4 linked regions of the Homo sapiens genome follow. The protein of the gene in region 2 interacts with the protein of the main gene of each other region in a pairwise test. Each region holds a gene or a part of one and is shown on either strand. Other genes may lie near its edges.

Evidence for each region. Proteins that work in one complex are often made in the same cells at the same time.
Region 1: the proteins of CCDC102B (region 2) and TNNI1 interact in binary tests that used the Homo sapiens proteins (3 or more experiments, as listed by UniProt).
Region 3: the proteins of CCDC102B (region 2) and SH3RF2 interact in binary tests that used the Homo sapiens proteins (3 or more experiments, as listed by UniProt).
Region 4: the proteins of CCDC102B (region 2) and KPNA3 interact in binary tests that used the Homo sapiens proteins (3 or more experiments, as listed by UniProt).

Annotation. Positions count from the first base shown.
Region 1 is NC_000001.11:201,414,908-201,418,852, reverse strand, and holds part of TNNI1 (troponin I, slow skeletal muscle), read left to right. Parts: intron 1-1,040; 5' UTR 1,041-1,059; coding exon 1,060-1,070; intron 1,071-1,733; coding exon 1,734-1,737; intron 1,738-3,598; coding exon 3,599-3,640; intron 3,641-3,945. UniProt on the Homo sapiens protein: Troponin I is the inhibitory subunit of troponin, the thin filament regulatory complex which confers calcium-sensitivity to striated muscle actomyosin ATPase activity.
Region 2 is NC_000018.10:68,891,814-68,895,758, forward strand, and holds part of CCDC102B (coiled-coil domain-containing protein 102B), read left to right. Parts: intron 1-3,945. UniProt on the Homo sapiens protein: During interphase, forms fibers at the proximal ends of centrioles to maintain centrosome cohesion. During mitosis, dissociates from the centrosome following phosphorylation to allow centrosome separation. Contributes to CROCC/rootletin filament formation.
Region 3 is NC_000005.10:145,998,956-146,002,900, forward strand, and holds part of SH3RF2 (E3 ubiquitin-protein ligase SH3RF2), read left to right. Parts: intron 1-1,102; coding exon 1,103-1,372; intron 1,373-3,945. UniProt on the Homo sapiens protein: Has E3 ubiquitin-protein ligase activity. Acts as an anti-apoptotic regulator of the JNK pathway by ubiquitinating and promoting the degradation of SH3RF1, a scaffold protein that is required for pro-apoptotic JNK activation.
Region 4 is NC_000013.11:49,785,860-49,789,804, reverse strand, and holds part of KPNA3 (importin subunit alpha-4), read left to right. Parts: intron 1-3,945. UniProt on the Homo sapiens protein: Functions in nuclear protein import as an adapter protein for nuclear receptor KPNB1. Binds specifically and directly to substrates containing either a simple or bipartite NLS motif.

The sequences.
Region 1 (3,945 bases), on a different chromosome or scaffold from region 2:
CTTATTATTAATAATAAACATCAAGAGGAAACTCACTGATTTAACCCCTAATTTTGCAGAGAGGAAAACCAACCCAGAGAGGGGAAAGACAGACTAGGGTGAACACGGGATTTGCCCTGCCTTGCGGCTTATTCTCTCCCACTCAAGGCCTCCCACTGCCCCACCCTGGAGGTGCCAGTTGCATTGCCATCTGTGGATGGAGTTGTGCCATGTGGCAGCTACCCGTTTTCCAGCATCCACTCTGCTCATTCACTTTCTAGGCCTTCCTCTCTCTGAGCCCTTCAATGACCACCCTTATTCCACAGGATAAAGTCTAAACTCAGCCTGTCCTTCAAGGCCCTCATGAGTGAGCTACACTCTCACTTATTTTTTTTTTTTTTTTTTTGAGAAGGAGACTCATTCTGTTACCCAGGCTGGAGTGCAGTGGTGCGATCTCGGCTCACTGTAACCTCCGCCTCCTGGGTTCAAGCAATTCTTCTGCCTCAGCCTCCTGAGTAGCTGGGACTATAGGCGTGCACCACCATGCTGGCTAATTTTTGTATCATTAGTAGAGACGGGGTTTGACCATATTGGCCAGGCTGGTCTTGAACTCCTTACCTCATGAACTGCCCGCCTTGGCCTCCCAAAGTGCTGGGATTACAGGCATGAGCCACTGCGCCCAGCTGCTCTCACTTTCCAAACATATTTCCTATGGACTCCATTCTGTTCTCCACTGGGATTGGCAAGCTTTATCTGGAAAGGGCCAGATAGCTTTGTAGCTCACATAAGGTTTCTGTTGCAAATTCTTAAAAAAAAAAAAAAAAAAAAAGCTTACAATTCTTTAAGCAAAAACAGGCTGGGAGCCAGGTCAGGCTTATGGGCTGTAGTTAGCTGACCCCTGCCCTGCAACCCTGTCCCATCTTGACCTGCTGGAATCCAATGTGTCTGATTTCTTCCTTTTGTGTTCTGACTCTGTCTCCTAGGCTGGGCTCCCAAGGCCCAGCTGGGCAGGGGCAGGGGTTTCCACTTTCCCTTATGAATGATTCCTCTGTGCCCCCTAGGTGCTGTCTCACTGCCACCATGCCGGAAGTGTAAGTAGTCTCACTGCCATCTGGGGCCCCAGGAAGGCAAGTCCCTTTGCCACAGACTTCAGCCCCGCAGTGGAGGCACCATGTTTTCAACCCCCAAAGCTTTTCCCTAAGAGACCAGGTCCTCAAACAGGGGCAGCACTTGATGGTTTCCCCTGTGCTGCCTGTGTCCTCCCAGCCATTGAGCAGAACTCACTCCCAGGTTGCCCTGGGAGTGCCTTTTTGGCTTGTGCCTCAGAGATTTCCTGTCTTGATCTATCACATGAATTGCATGTACCAGGCCACCACTTAACACTGGTGCAGTAGGTGAACAAAGCTTTGGGAATTTACCCACGCACCCGTGGATGGATGCTTTCACGTTGCTGGAACCCTACGCTAAGGCTTCCCTCCCCTTCCACCACTTGTCCCCAACTTACGATGCCCAGTACCTCCCAATAAGAATGCCCCGTAGTTCAAAGGGCTGTTGAATTTTTATTTTATTCTGCCGGAACCTCAAACCGCTCCCCTTGCCTGATGCCTGATGACTTTCTGGCTCACTGTTGTCACTGGCCCCCTCCTCCCCCAAGCTGGTCTGTGAGGTTCTGCGACTGCACATGTAATCCTCATTGTTCATACTCACTCTGTGTTCTGCTCTTTCCCCGTCCTTCCTGTGATGGATGCCTGAAGCGAGGTAAGTGATATTTGGGGTATCTCTGTCTTGGTTAACTCTAACGACTGGTAAAAGTGGGAAGGTGGGGTTGGCATCTGAGGAGAGGGAAGAGCCTGTGTTAAGGCCTGGTGGGAGTCCAGGGGGTGTAGGGTATTTAGTGGCTGAACAAATTCCCAGGAGATGGAAACGTCAGGTGAAGATTCTGGATGTGGGGCTTCCTAGTGTCCAGGGAGTTGCTGTGCCAGTGTACCATGTCACTGGAAGGACTGGTATTGCAGCAGGGTTGGGTGTGACTCTGCATCCTTGCTGAGCACAAGCTCTTCCTCACCCACTCTGAGAGCTGGTCCAGTCCTGGGGGGACCATCCTATTCCATGCAGAGCTGATCCTGTGCAAAGCTATATTGGAAGGGTAAGGGATAGTCATTGGGTTATTCCACCCTTGCCCAATGGCTGAACATTGATTGAGGAGCAAAGAGATGTCCTTAAATCCCTCAGGTGTTAGAAAACCCTGACACTGGCCATTCTATACACTCCAGACTTACCAGGCTACTGAGATCACAGCCTATGTACAGTCCAAGGATGGGGATGGCAGGGATAGGGATGTGGGCCCAGGGATGGAAACAGTGAGAATTAGCAGTATTGATGGAGGGGATATTTGGCACAGAGATTCTCAGTAAGAATTGAACATGTTACTTTTCAACATTCATATGAATTTTTAAGTTTTGCTGAGGCTCGTATTAAAGTGAGTCCTCACTGACTGATGGTCAAATGAGGTGGCCATCGGCTCACCAAGTGGTGGGGAAATAAGATCGCAGTCAAACATTTGCCATGTGTACATTACAGTGTGTAAACCATGGTAGTAATGCTTAGAGTCATAGGCTCTTTCTTTTGAAATTGCACTTATCTGAAATGTAACAAAAATCTTTAGGAGAGGAAAAGACAAACCAACCACTCTGAACAGTCAGAATAGAAGTTACACATTCCATTTGCTGAAACTCATCCATTGTCTCTCATGAGAACTTCCCTCTCAAAGCCTAATCACTTCTACTTGACACCCTGGAATAACATTTGAGAGCCATGCTCTGCCGGCTCACAGCACATTAAGTCTAGGTAGGATGCTTCCTGCTGGCAATGAGAAGTGACCGCCTATGGCCCAGAAGATACTCTAGTGCTCGAAAGGCATCACAGTCTCATTAGTTGGGGACCAAGCAGCCCTACTACTCACCTTTGCCAACCCTGAGGGACCACTGTCACAGGGCTAGGACTAGTAAGCAAGAACATGTTTAGGATTTTTGATAAGAAGATAAAACAGTGGTTTTATATCTTAGAAAGATTTGTATGGGTGGTGTTAACATTTTTAAAAGTTTTGAGGTCTACATAGATACGTTTCATTTATTTGGGAAATTCACAGCTTATTTATGCAGCATGACGGATCATCAAGGTATTGCTGTATTACTACCTGGAGTGTGAAAACACATAGCTTTTACGATTTTCAAAGGATTTGCACATCCATGATCTCATTTCATCTGCAATAACTCTGTGAACTAAGTAAGGGGGGGGGTCCTAATATCCTTATTTACAGATGAGGAAGGAGGTGCCTGTAGAAGCCATGTGGCCCTCATAGTATCTTACAAGATTTCAGCAGCAGCAGAATCAGAGTGGGAAGTTAAGGCTTCAGCCCCTAGGTCAAGGTAGCTGACTGCAGCCTTCTCTGAACTGCAGAGGTTAAATAACAAAGATGAGCTTTTAAGGCACCGTAGGGTGAGCAGAGGATTCCGGATAAAGATAGAGAACGCTGGCTGGCACTTGTCTTGTCCTAGACCAGAATTCCAGTTCTGCAGCCTCTGCCTCACCACCTGTCTCTCTCTCTTCTTGCCCACAGAGAAAACCCAAGATCACTGCCTCCCGCAAACTCTTGCTGAAGGTGAGGCTGGGGGCTGGCTGTGGGGGGATGCCCAGTGGGAGGCAGAGGGGCAGCAGAGCAGACTCTGAAGGGATGTGGAGGATTATGGCAAGGAGAAAGGAAGGAGGCCAGAGTGAGGATGATGAGGGGCAGGAGTCCAGCATTGCTGGAGCCAGTGCCAGGCTCAGGTGATCAGTAGGTGGGATCCTCGAGTATGGATTCTGGCATCCGCCTGTGGTCCCTAGAGTAGGTGGTGACCAGCTTCAGAGTGGGAAGCTACTCATGCAGGCAGAGGGACTTCCTTTATTTTCATATGTGTTTCTCTC
Region 2 (3,945 bases):
CTTAATCTTTATTACCTATTTATAGAACCTATCTCCAAATATTATCACACTGGGGATAAGACTTCTAAAGACAAATATTGGGGGGTACACAATTCAGTCCATAACAGTTGGGTAGGATTTTCCAGGGATAGCAAGAATAAGAGGTAACAGGTGGGTTCTATGGGAGAAAGTGGAATAATAAAAATTACGAGTTGTGTACTTAATTTCTTAGTTGTAATATGCCCTCTTTTGTCGATACAGTGAAGGGACACTTTTTAAAAATCCAAGCTTTTGGGTAGGAGGATGAAAATCAATTTGTCTTATGATTCTTTGATAATTCCCTTAATATCAACTTCTTGCTTTCCTCCTGTCCCTTTCCAGGAAGTTTCTAAATGACAGCCCTGCTTTCCAAGATACCCCTTGCAATCTAGAGTGCTACCCATGACCTTGAAAAACCTGAAAACAATGACCCTTGTACTTTCTAATCTCCTTTATTACATTTCTGATAGTAGCTTGTGTTCTGGCTCTCCAGGTCTGAGATCTGTTCTCAGTTATTTCCCTGCTTAAGGTGATGTGGCTACCTTTACAGGACATCCACCATAGCGCATGTTTTCTCTTCTGCACCATCCCCATCTGACTCTGCTCCCACATGGTCTCCAGAGAAGTCTCTGCTGCCCTCAGACATTTATTGCACCTCTTACATATCCGTCAAGTTTCTATAAGTCTAAGCCTCTTTATTGTGTTGACAGGTTTGCAGCTACCAGTGATTTTATTTTTTTCTCATTTTTGATCTTTGGAGGTTGGCTTGAGAGAGTGAGATTTAGTCTGTGTTCACGTTCTAAACTATGCAATTTTCAAAGGATACTATTTTATAGCCATAGTCATCTATTTTTGTATTGATTACAAAAAATTACTTTAAGAGACTGATTTATTTGGATATTACAAAACAGACATCTAAATAAGTCTAGCAAATAAATTCAATGTAATTTAAGACTGAAAGATAAACACATTCAAATCTTGAGGGATACTGCAAAGCTTAAAAATAGGTATAACATCAATACATATGTAAGGAAATAGTTGTGTCTGGCATTAGACAATGGCTCTCATATCTCAATTACAGGGAGTGTAGTTGAACCCAGCTGCTACCTTCTGAATATTTGCAAATCAATTACTGGAACATTCACATTGGTTTTAGGTGACTCTTCACTGGCCTGCCAAGTGGCATATAGTGCATTCTTTTGGGAGTTTTCTCCATTGACTAGGTCCATTTAAAAAGTGATTGTCATCTTGGTACAACTTGAGGAAAAAGTAAATACACTATTTTGTATCTGAAGTGGCTGTTGATGTTTTCTTCTTTAGGAAATAAATTTATGACTTTAGACATTTTTGAGTTGAATTTGGAAGTTAATAAATATTTTCTCTAAATGATTTCAGTTCTCCCTCATAACACTAGGTTGTAGGAAAGAGTTTTCTTATGTTATAAAAAAGAAAAATTGAGGCAATCAGTCTAAAAGGAGAATTGGGACTCATCTGTAGGTTATTTTATTAAAAATCCTCTCTGCCTCACTGTGTTCACTACTATAAAATGTAAAACAGCTCTGGCAATAGCAGTAAGAGTTCAGAGCCAATGTACGGAGAAGTCCTTTTCATGTTATGTTATGGTAAGTCTAGTAACTGGATTCTTTTAGAGTGCTGTCTTAATTTTGCTTTGTGTGTAATCATTGTCATTGAAATACAGAAGGGCTTTTTCCTGGAGACTGTCATTATCTGCTTTCTCTTTCACTTAACAGTTATTTATGGAGCACACATACAGTGTGTGTCTGGTGCTGGGCTTATGAGCAAAATGACACAGTCCTGGTTTCATAAAGCTTACATTCCAGTTGTTGTTAATGATTACAATTGTCAGTATCTTTTCAACAATATCAAGCCATGGCAGTTGAAGAATGAGTAAATAGCTATGTTTAGAAAATGATCCAATGTTTTATCCTTCGGAATAATCACAATATTACAGTTTTTACAAGCAACTCAACTGATTCTGATATTCATACTTATTTTTCAGAACCAGTCCGTGTTTGTCCAGTTTCCTTTTATACCATGTTCTCCCCAAATCCTAACATTCCATAACTGCACAGACTCTTCTTGGTCTTGCACTGTTCAAACATTTTTCTTGCTTTCTGTGCTTGGTACACTCTGGGTCTGGCTGTGCTTTTCTGCCTTATTAAACTTCAATTTGCAGCTTAAATATCAATCATTTCCTCAAACAACCTTCTCCTTTTACCTGATTTATTGCAGGCCTTTCTATGACACTCAATTTTTTTTCCTTTGTAAAAAGATGCCCAATGTTACTCATATTCTATTTGTATTTTTAAAGTCATATATTCAGTTCCTCTTTGTTTCTTGATACATAAATAAGCTCAATAAATATTCATTCAGTAAGTGTAGTATTGGATATTTATGTACTTTTTCTCGACGTTTAATAAGAAATTGATGTCATTAAGTGAACAAATATTTTAGTGCTTACTGTACAAAGAATGTACTTTTACATTAAAATTTTCAGAAAACAGGTTTCAGTAATTTCTGCATTATCTGAAATTCATTTAATGCTAGAACACGCTATTGGTTAAAATTCACAGTTGAGTTAGAATTAAAATATTTTAGGAGTTTCTCTTCATCATCAGAAGCAAAGCAATGGAATTCTATTTCCATTTGATAAAATTATTGTAATTTTTATGATAAACTCTGAGAGCTTAAAATATTACCTGACTTTTTATTTATCATTTTAAGGTACATGCAATTAAATGCTTTTTAAGTTAGTGAATTTTCATATGATTCTTGGAAAAGAATGATGTGATAAGAAACAGTTTTACAAAATAAAAACTAAAACTTCTTATAATTTTATAAGACTTTTACTTTTTAATATATGTTATACACATATATTTATCAAATAATTTGTATGTTTTGATAAATCTGCCAATAGTAAAACATCAGAAGGCATTATTTAAGCTTTGTTGTTGCTACTGCTAAAATCATTACTTAAAAAAAATCTTAAGAGTTAAAATTTATTCATTCAGACCATGTATTACTTATTTAAAACCTTGGTTCTACTTGTTATCTGTTATTTAATGTTAAATCAATTTATTTAATTTTAACATTTAAAAGAATACTGCAAGTTCACAAAGACTTGACACAGCATATTTGTCCTTGCCCAAAAATACATTTGCTCTCCTTATATTAATTTTTCATTGCTAAGTTGCTGCCTTCTTGTGGCAACTTTATCATTTTTATTCTGATAAGTGAGGCAATGATAGAAACTTTAAGTATTAATCTTAACAATGAAAGTAATGGCAGGTACTAAATTAAATTGTGATATAATATTTTCACCTCATATTCCCAAACAAGCATCCCAAATGTCAAACTACATCATCTAAAATTTGACCCTTAGTTTATTATATATAATTGGTAAATGAGGTCTAGTGCCAAGAATGTAATTTTGGTTTCCTACATTTTGGAAGCCAGAACATCTCTTAGATTTGGGAACAGAACATTTTCTACAATAATGGTACAATTATATATATATGAAAAAGCAGTTTTTAGGCTTTTATATCATAATTTATTATGATACTATAAAGGATATTGTTGAAATGTAACATTTTTCTAAATGTTGACTAAGTTGTTGGGCTTTTAGAATTTAGCATGTCATAGCAACAGATTTTATAACAGTATAATAATTATAAAGTATGTTGCAATGAAGCCATTATAATCAACAATGTTAAAACAAGTAATTTAGAATTTTTATCCTTTTGAGATATTTTTAAAATGCCTCATACTCTAATCATCCTAAATAGTTTGCAAGGAATTTTGAGTAGTTGACCCTCTTCTGTCCCTACAATACCACAAATATGGTATTTGTGCTATTGTATTTATGGTATTATATGTATGGTATCATACTAATTTTACTAGTAAGAA
Region 3 (3,945 bases), on a different chromosome or scaffold from region 2:
CTATTAAGTGTGCAATAGCATTATGCCTAAAAAACAATATATCTAACTTAATTTAAAATACTTTATTACTAAAAAAAAAACCTTAATGATGATCTGAGCCTTCAGCAAGTTGTAATCTTCTTGCTGGTGGTGGGTCTTGCCTCAATATTGATGGCTTGTTGCTTCACCTTGCATTTTTATGTTATAGAGACAGCTTCTCTTCTTAAACCTCAGACTATCTCTGCCAGCTTCAAACTTTTTTTCTGCAGCTTCCTCATCTCTCTCAGCCTTCATAGAATTAAAGAAAGTTAGGATCTTGATCTTGATTAGGCTTTGGCTTGAGGGTCTGTTGTGTCTGGTTTGATCTTCTACACAAACCAGTCAAACTTTCTCCATATCGGCAATAAGGCTGATTCACTTACTTATCATTTATGTATTCACTGCAGTAGCACTTCTGATTTCCTTCATGAACTTTTCTTTTGCATTCACAGCTTGACTGTTTGTCACAAGAGGCCTAGCTTTTGGCCTATCTCAGCTTTAGTCATGCCTTCCTCATTAAGATTAATCATTTCTAGCTTTTGATTTAAAGTGAGAGATGTGAAACTCTTCCTTTCACTTGAAAATTTGTAGGCAATTGTAGGGTCATTAATTGGCCTCATTTTAATATTTTTGTGTCTCAGAGAATAGGGAGGCCCAAGGAGAGGGAGAGAGATGGGAAAATGACCAGTTTGTGGAGCAGTCAGAACACAAACATTTATCGACGAAGTTTGCTGTCTTGTATGGGCAAAGTTTGTGGCGCCCCCCGAGACATTACAATAGTAACCTCAAAGATCACTGATTACAGATCACCATAGCAGATATAATAATAATGAAAGTTTAAAATATTTAAAGTTAATAACAGTTACCAGAATGTGACACAGAGACACAAAGTGAGCACATGGTGTTGGAAGAATGGCGCTGATAGACCTATTTAACACAGGTTGCCATAAACCTTTGATTTGTAAAAAACTCAGTATTTGCAAAGCATGTTAAAGCAAAGTACAATAAAAGGGGGAATGCTTGTATCTTCTGTTCCTCTAGACTCTAAGCTAAGTACATATCTTATTGGTCTGTGCCATTGCAGGTGCCTCGAGCAAAGGCCTTATGCAACTACAGAGGGCAGAATCCCGGTGACCTAAGGTTTAATAAGGGAGATATCATCCTTCTCCGGAGACAGCTTGATGAGAATTGGTACCAGGGGGAAATCAATGGCATCAGCGGGAACTTCCCAGCCAGCTCCGTGGAAGTCATCAAGCAGCTGCCCCAGCCGCCCCCGCTCTGCAGGGCCCTCTACAACTTCGACCTACGAGGCAAGGACAAGAGTGAGAACCAGGATTGCCTGACCTTCCTCAAGGTAGGATTCTGGGTGGCCACCAGAGTCACCTGGGACCACGTAGAGACCATAGCAGAACAGAGTTCCTTGTTTAATATTTGCTGATTTTAAAAAATTGTATTTTAAATATATTATATTATTGTTAATATTTTATTCATAAAAATATATTTTGTGCATAAATTACGTATGTATATATGTAGTGCATATATATGTAATATGTGTGTACAATTCAAACTACATGCACGTGAAATCTCTAGAGAAATCTACGAATAAGTGATAGAAGTCTGTAAGCCTTTTTTATTGTAATTACAAAAGTATTCACTCATTCATTCATTCATTTATCCTGAAACCATTGTAGAAACATTTGAAAATACAGATAAGCAAAACAAGGAAAATATTACACCACAATATAGATACAATCACTGTCAACAGCTTGAATAACACATTTGATTTATTCATTCTATCACTTTTGAGCATTTACTCCTTGAAGGCCCTGGGAATAGGACGTGAATAAGTCACAGTCTCTGCTCTCCTGGCAGAGTAATGGGAAGCACCGATACATGGACAGAAAATTAGAAACAATTTGATAACATGCTATGTAAAACTACAGCCTCTACCTCTTTATCATGTATGTGGCAGGGTATTCTTGCAACCAAGTTATGGTTACCTAATTCTACTCATTTACATTCTATCTTGTTGTAAACATCTCATTCAAAACACTCCAGACACACACAATAACATAATCGTGCCTTTCTACATAAATAACCTCTTACAAGATATATTTTTCAAACATTAATTACCCTAAGATTTCTTGTGCCTCTCTTTTTCATTAGATGATTCCCCACCATTTGCAATTAATGACAGTTGTACTAAAGTCTACACTACTTTAACTATCTGTATTCAGTATTTGTTATTCCATAAACATTCACATCTCTCATAGAAACCACAGTTGGAGTTATTTTCATTCTTGACTACTCGTGATAAGTAGATCAAATGTAAGTATAAAAAGTGGCACTGCTACAATAGCTTAGGCAAGGTGTTTCGTTTTACAAAATGTTTTTATTCCACCACTACCAGAAAGGAGATTTACTTCAGGTTTTCTCAAACTAGACAACCTCTCTGCCCTCCATATTTTGAGATAATGATCTTTATTATTGCCGTGGAACCTCAGAGCGAGACTCCTAAGGAAGGTCATTCTACAGCCCAAACAGCAAAGTGTAGACCTAGACTACAGCTAGAGGAAAGTCAGTTCAATTCCACAAATATTTATTATTTACTTTGTGCCAGGCATTAGACACACAGCTGGAGGAAGACATAAGGAAGTATCATCGTCTGCCTCTCTCACCCTTTCTGGGAATTTGTAAACTGGGGCACTTACTTCACACACTCATTCATTTCTTGAGCCCATCCATGTGCCAAGCTGGCCATTGGAGATAAAGTGATGAGTCATTGTTCTTACCTACACTGAGCTGGCAATCTAGTGGAAGAAACAGACATATAAATGGGAAATTATGACAAAGAAACCAAAAGAGAGGATTTGACCCATTCTGGAAGGCTGTGAAATACACAGACTTCTAGGAAATCTCATGGTCTAAACTCAGCATATCCAAATTAAACTCAAGATCTTCCTTCCCAAAGCTGTTCTTTTCCTAGTGCTTTCTAGCTCAGTAAATTGTGTAATTTATTCAACGTCATGTATTTATTCATGCATGCATGCATTCAATAAACTTATTGGCTGACTACTAAAAGGGAGCCACTGTGTTAGGTGCTAGGGAAAACAAAGATTAACAAAACAGACATAGGCCCTGCACACATGAAGTTTATAGTCAGATAGGGTAGACCGACATTAAAGAAATAATAACCTCCTGGCACGGTGGCTCACGCCTGCAATCCCAGCACTTTGGGAGACCGCGGCAGGCGGATCACTTGAGGTCAGGAGTTTGAGACCAGCCTGGCCAACATAGCGAAACCCCGACTCTACTAAAAATACAAAAATTAGTCAGGCGTGGTTGCGCGTGCCTGTAATCCCAGCTACTCAGGAGACTGAGGCAGGAGAATCGCTTGAACCCAGGAGGCGGAGGTTGCAGTGAGCCAAGTTCGCGCCATTGCACTCCAGCCTGGGCAACAGAGCGAGACTCCATCTAAAAATTAAAAAAGAAAGAAAAGGAAGGAAGGAAGGAAGGAAGGAAGGAAGGAAGGAAGGAAGGAAGGAAGGAAGGAAGGAAGGAAGGATAACCTATAAATGCATAATTGCACATGTGTAAGAGCAGGGGCCCCCAACCCCAGGACCACCGACCAGTACCAGTCCGTGGCCTGTGAGGAAACGGGCCGCACAGCAGGAGGTGAGAGGTGGGCAAGTGAGCAAACCTTCATCTGTATTTATAGCTGCTCCCCATGGGTCGCATTACTGCCTGAGCTCCACCTTCTGTCAGATTAGTGGCAGCATTAGATTCTCATAGGAGCGTGAAACCTATTGTGAACTGCGCATGCAAGGGATCTAAATTAGGTGCTCCTTATGAGAATCTAATGCCTGATAATGTGAGGTGGAGCAGTTTTATCTTGAAACCATTCCCTATCCTCTACCCTCTATCCCC
Region 4 (3,945 bases), on a different chromosome or scaffold from region 2:
GAGGGAGCAGTAATTGAAGAGTCCTGAGAGAAATGTAGGAGAGAGAGAGACTAAAGGGTAAACTGGGGTCAAATCTGATGAAGGGCCTTTATTGGGGATTTAGGCATATCTAAGAGTAGATAACCATGCTTAGTCTTGTCCATTAGAAACAGTACAACTTAGCTCTGTAACTGAGTAGTTGTGGTTATCAGGCTGTTCCAAAACAGTGAGATGCACTTTGATAAGCTATGATGCCTATTTTTTCACATATAGGATAGACAAAAACTAAAACATGTTATAAATTATAGAAGCAGCTGATACACAAGATGTTAGGTGCAAGAATAAGATCCATACTTGTTAAAGAAAATAAAAGGATAGAGTTATGCCAGGGGATTTGAGTAGAGAGAGGGTTGAGGAAGAAAATTTCTTTGTCATTCAATCGAGAGAGACTTTAAGAGATCTTTGGAGAGGAAAAAAAAAATGAGGTTAGTGAATCTTATAGGAAATATGTACCAAACTTAAAAGGGGCATGTTAACTGGTGAATAAATATCCAGGTAAAAAAGAAGAGTGATTATATTAAAGAGAGGAGACTTCCAGGTGGCCTGTGTTGATGCAAGAATATCTTGTGGCAAAGAGTTGCTTGGAAGCTTTTTCTTAATAGGGAGATGTGAAGGAATTTATTCCAGAGCAAAGAGGAGATGTAACATGATTAGAGCAATGGAAAGGGTGACAGGGCAGTAATACCTAGAATTCATTTTGGAGAAATAGCGCTGTTGTCTGATCTGCAAAGAAGAGTTTTCCAAAAAATTGAGACTGGGAATGGCTACAACCTGGAATGAGGATTTGATGATGCTGTTCTTCCTCCCTCTTCCTCCTCCTTCAAATTCTCTTTATAAAGATCACTGAAGAGAAAGGGAGTAAAGGTTATTCTGAGGTTTATAAATGGAGGAAGGGAGGGAGTAATTATCATCACTGATAGAAATTTGGAGCTTGGGTAGGGGATGCATTTTGTAGCAAAAACTAGGAAGTACATATTGAAAGGGAAACATTTCCTTTTATTTGTTCTGGAATGTGCTTTTTTTTTTTAAAAAAAAAAAAAAAAAAAAAGAGGGTCTGGCTCTGTCGCCAAGGGTGGAGTGCAGTGGCCCAATCTCGGCTCACTATAACCTTCGCCTCCTCCCAGGCTCAAGCCGTCCTTCCATCTCAGCCTCTTGAGTAGCTGGGACTACAGGCACATGCCACCACACCTGGCTAATTTTTGTGTTTTTTGTAGAGACGGGGTTTTGCCATGTTGCCCAGGCTGGTTTCAAACTGCTAGCTCAAGTTATCCTCCTGCCTTGGCCTCTAAAAGTGTTGGGATTAGGGGCATGAGTCACCATGCCCGGTCCTGGAATGTGCATTTTAATGCTAGACCTTTTCATGTAAGGCATTGATTCTTAAAAACTTTTCCTGTTTTCAAAGATAACTTATAGAAAAGTGTGCAAAACAGAAATGTTCTGTTTAATGAATAATTACAAAACAAATGCTCAGGTAACTGCAATCCAGGTCAACTCATTTTCTTGCTGCTGTATACCTCAAGGGTGTGACATTTTCATTAGTAACAGTAATTAATTATTTTAAAAACCTTAACATTTATTGTTTACAGTATATCAGTGCTAAGTACTTTATATAGATTATCTATTTAATCTTCACAACAGTCCTATATCAAGTAAGTACTATTATTATCCCCATTTACTGCTGAGGCAACTTGAGGCCTACAACCCTTAAGTAAGTGGCCTTAAGTCTTCCATCGGGTGTTAAGTGGCAAAGCCTGGACTTACAATATATCAAAGCTTTATGCTAAGCGGCTGGGCGCAATGGCTAACGCCTGTAATCCCAGCACTTTGGGAGGCCGAGGCAGGTGGATCACCCGAGGTCAGGAGTTCGAGACCAGCCTGGCCAACATGGTGAAACCCCGTCTCTACTAAAAATACAAAAATTAGCCGGGCATGGTGGCGCGTGCCTGTAGTCCCAGCTACACGGGAGGCTGAGGCAGGAGAATGGCGTGAACCCGGGAGGCGGAGCTTGCAGTGAGTCAAGATCGCACCACTGCACTCCAGCCTGGGCGACAGAGCGAAACTCCGTCTCAAAAAAAAAAAAAAAATACAAAAATTAGCCGGTCCTGGTGGCTCATGCCTGTAATCCCAGCTACAAGGGAGGCTGAGGCGAGAGAATCACTTGAACCGGGGAGGCAGAGGTTACAATGAGCTGTGGTCATGCCACTGCACTCAAGTCTGGGCGACAGAGTGAAACTCTGTCTCAAAAACAAACAAATAAAGCTTGATGCTAAAGCTAGAACTCTTGCTTACTGTGCTGTACTCCACCGAAGGGAGTCTAAGACTTGACATGTACAAACCACGCCTGAAAGTTAGTGAATGGGGAAAATATTGAAGAAATATCGACTATATCACAGAAATTGCTATTTCTATACTTTAAAACCTTGCAAATTTTTGATGAACTTTACTATTAGATTTATTTGCCTTTTTATCTTTTTACTCTTGCAAAGTTTCCTTCTTATCAGCAAGGAGCCAGTTGGTTGGTTTTACCAAAAAATGATAATCCGTATCTTTGGGCTTAACACTTAAGCTTTATGCTTTAGTTTCTGATACCAGGGCTAATATATATTTTCTCACCTGCAAAATTCAGTTAGCTCTACCAGACTTGCTTCTGTCTCTGGAACCTCCAGTGCTAAGTGGCACTATCTGATTGTCCAAGTTTAAGATTCTATCCTTGACTCCCTTCTCTTCCCCTCCTTCACCCTTCTTTGTATTAGTTATCTGAAGAACCCTCATGTTTGTACCTGTTACCAACCTTACTTCCTCTGCCCCTAGTTTAGACCCTTATCTTTGTTGCCTGAACAAGTATAATAGTGTACCTAGCTCTTCTGTGTTCAGTATCTTCTCTCCCCAGTGTATCTTGTGGATTGATCTTTCTCATATCTTTCTGTGTTACTTTCCTGTTTATGATCCTTCCCATTGACTTCAGGATAAAAGTCCTTAGCATGCCACACATAGTTGTAAGACCTTACCTTTTTTACCTCACCTTGCACTTTTCCTTATATCTCCTTTGTGCCAGCTGTGATAAAGTACTGGAGATGCTTGAGTAACCAGTAGTTTCTTCTTCATGCCTTTGTATATGCTGTTCTGTGTGCCTTCTTTTGACTATCTGTTGAGTTGGGGTTCACTCTGGCAACCTATCTCTTCAGTGAGACTCCTTCATATATCTCTGGAACACCAAGATTACAATTCTGCCACACCATGTCATTCTAGTTAAAAACCAAAAACAAAAAAAAACTTTAAAAGTTCTCCATGAGCCTTTCCTGACTTACAGTATACTTGGTACTATCAGTCCCTATTCTTTTCCTCCTCTCTAGTGTTTTCCTAGGTGAATTTTCCTTCACCTATTTGGGATAAATTGCTGTGATGTACAACAAATTCTGTGTTTGTATAGCTATTAAAGTATTTGGGCTCTGTTGAGAAGCTCAGTGAGAATAGATACCTTGGATGTAACTTGAAACATGAAACTTAATGAGAAGAGAGACTAGATGATATACCTGAAAAAAGTCTACATTTGGGAATGAAAGGTTCAGTATTATTCTAAGACATTAATTTTCTTTTGGTGTTGACTCCATGGCATTGATACTGTTGCCTAGCCCTCCTTGAACAGCCTGTTCTCCTATAATGTATTTCTGTAACATGAACTCGCTCATACTTGAATGGTTAATAAAAAAATGTTAAGGCAAAGTTCATATTGGTTCATATGTGATTTTTAGTATCACATTAATGTTTAGCACTCTTAAATAACAACAGTTGAACATAAAGTACAGAAACAGTTGAACGGATCAAGCCCAGGAGTATGCATATTGGCCATGCACCCATGTTCTGCCTCTTGGCTCTGTTTAACCATATGCAGTGTCTAAAGGTGCT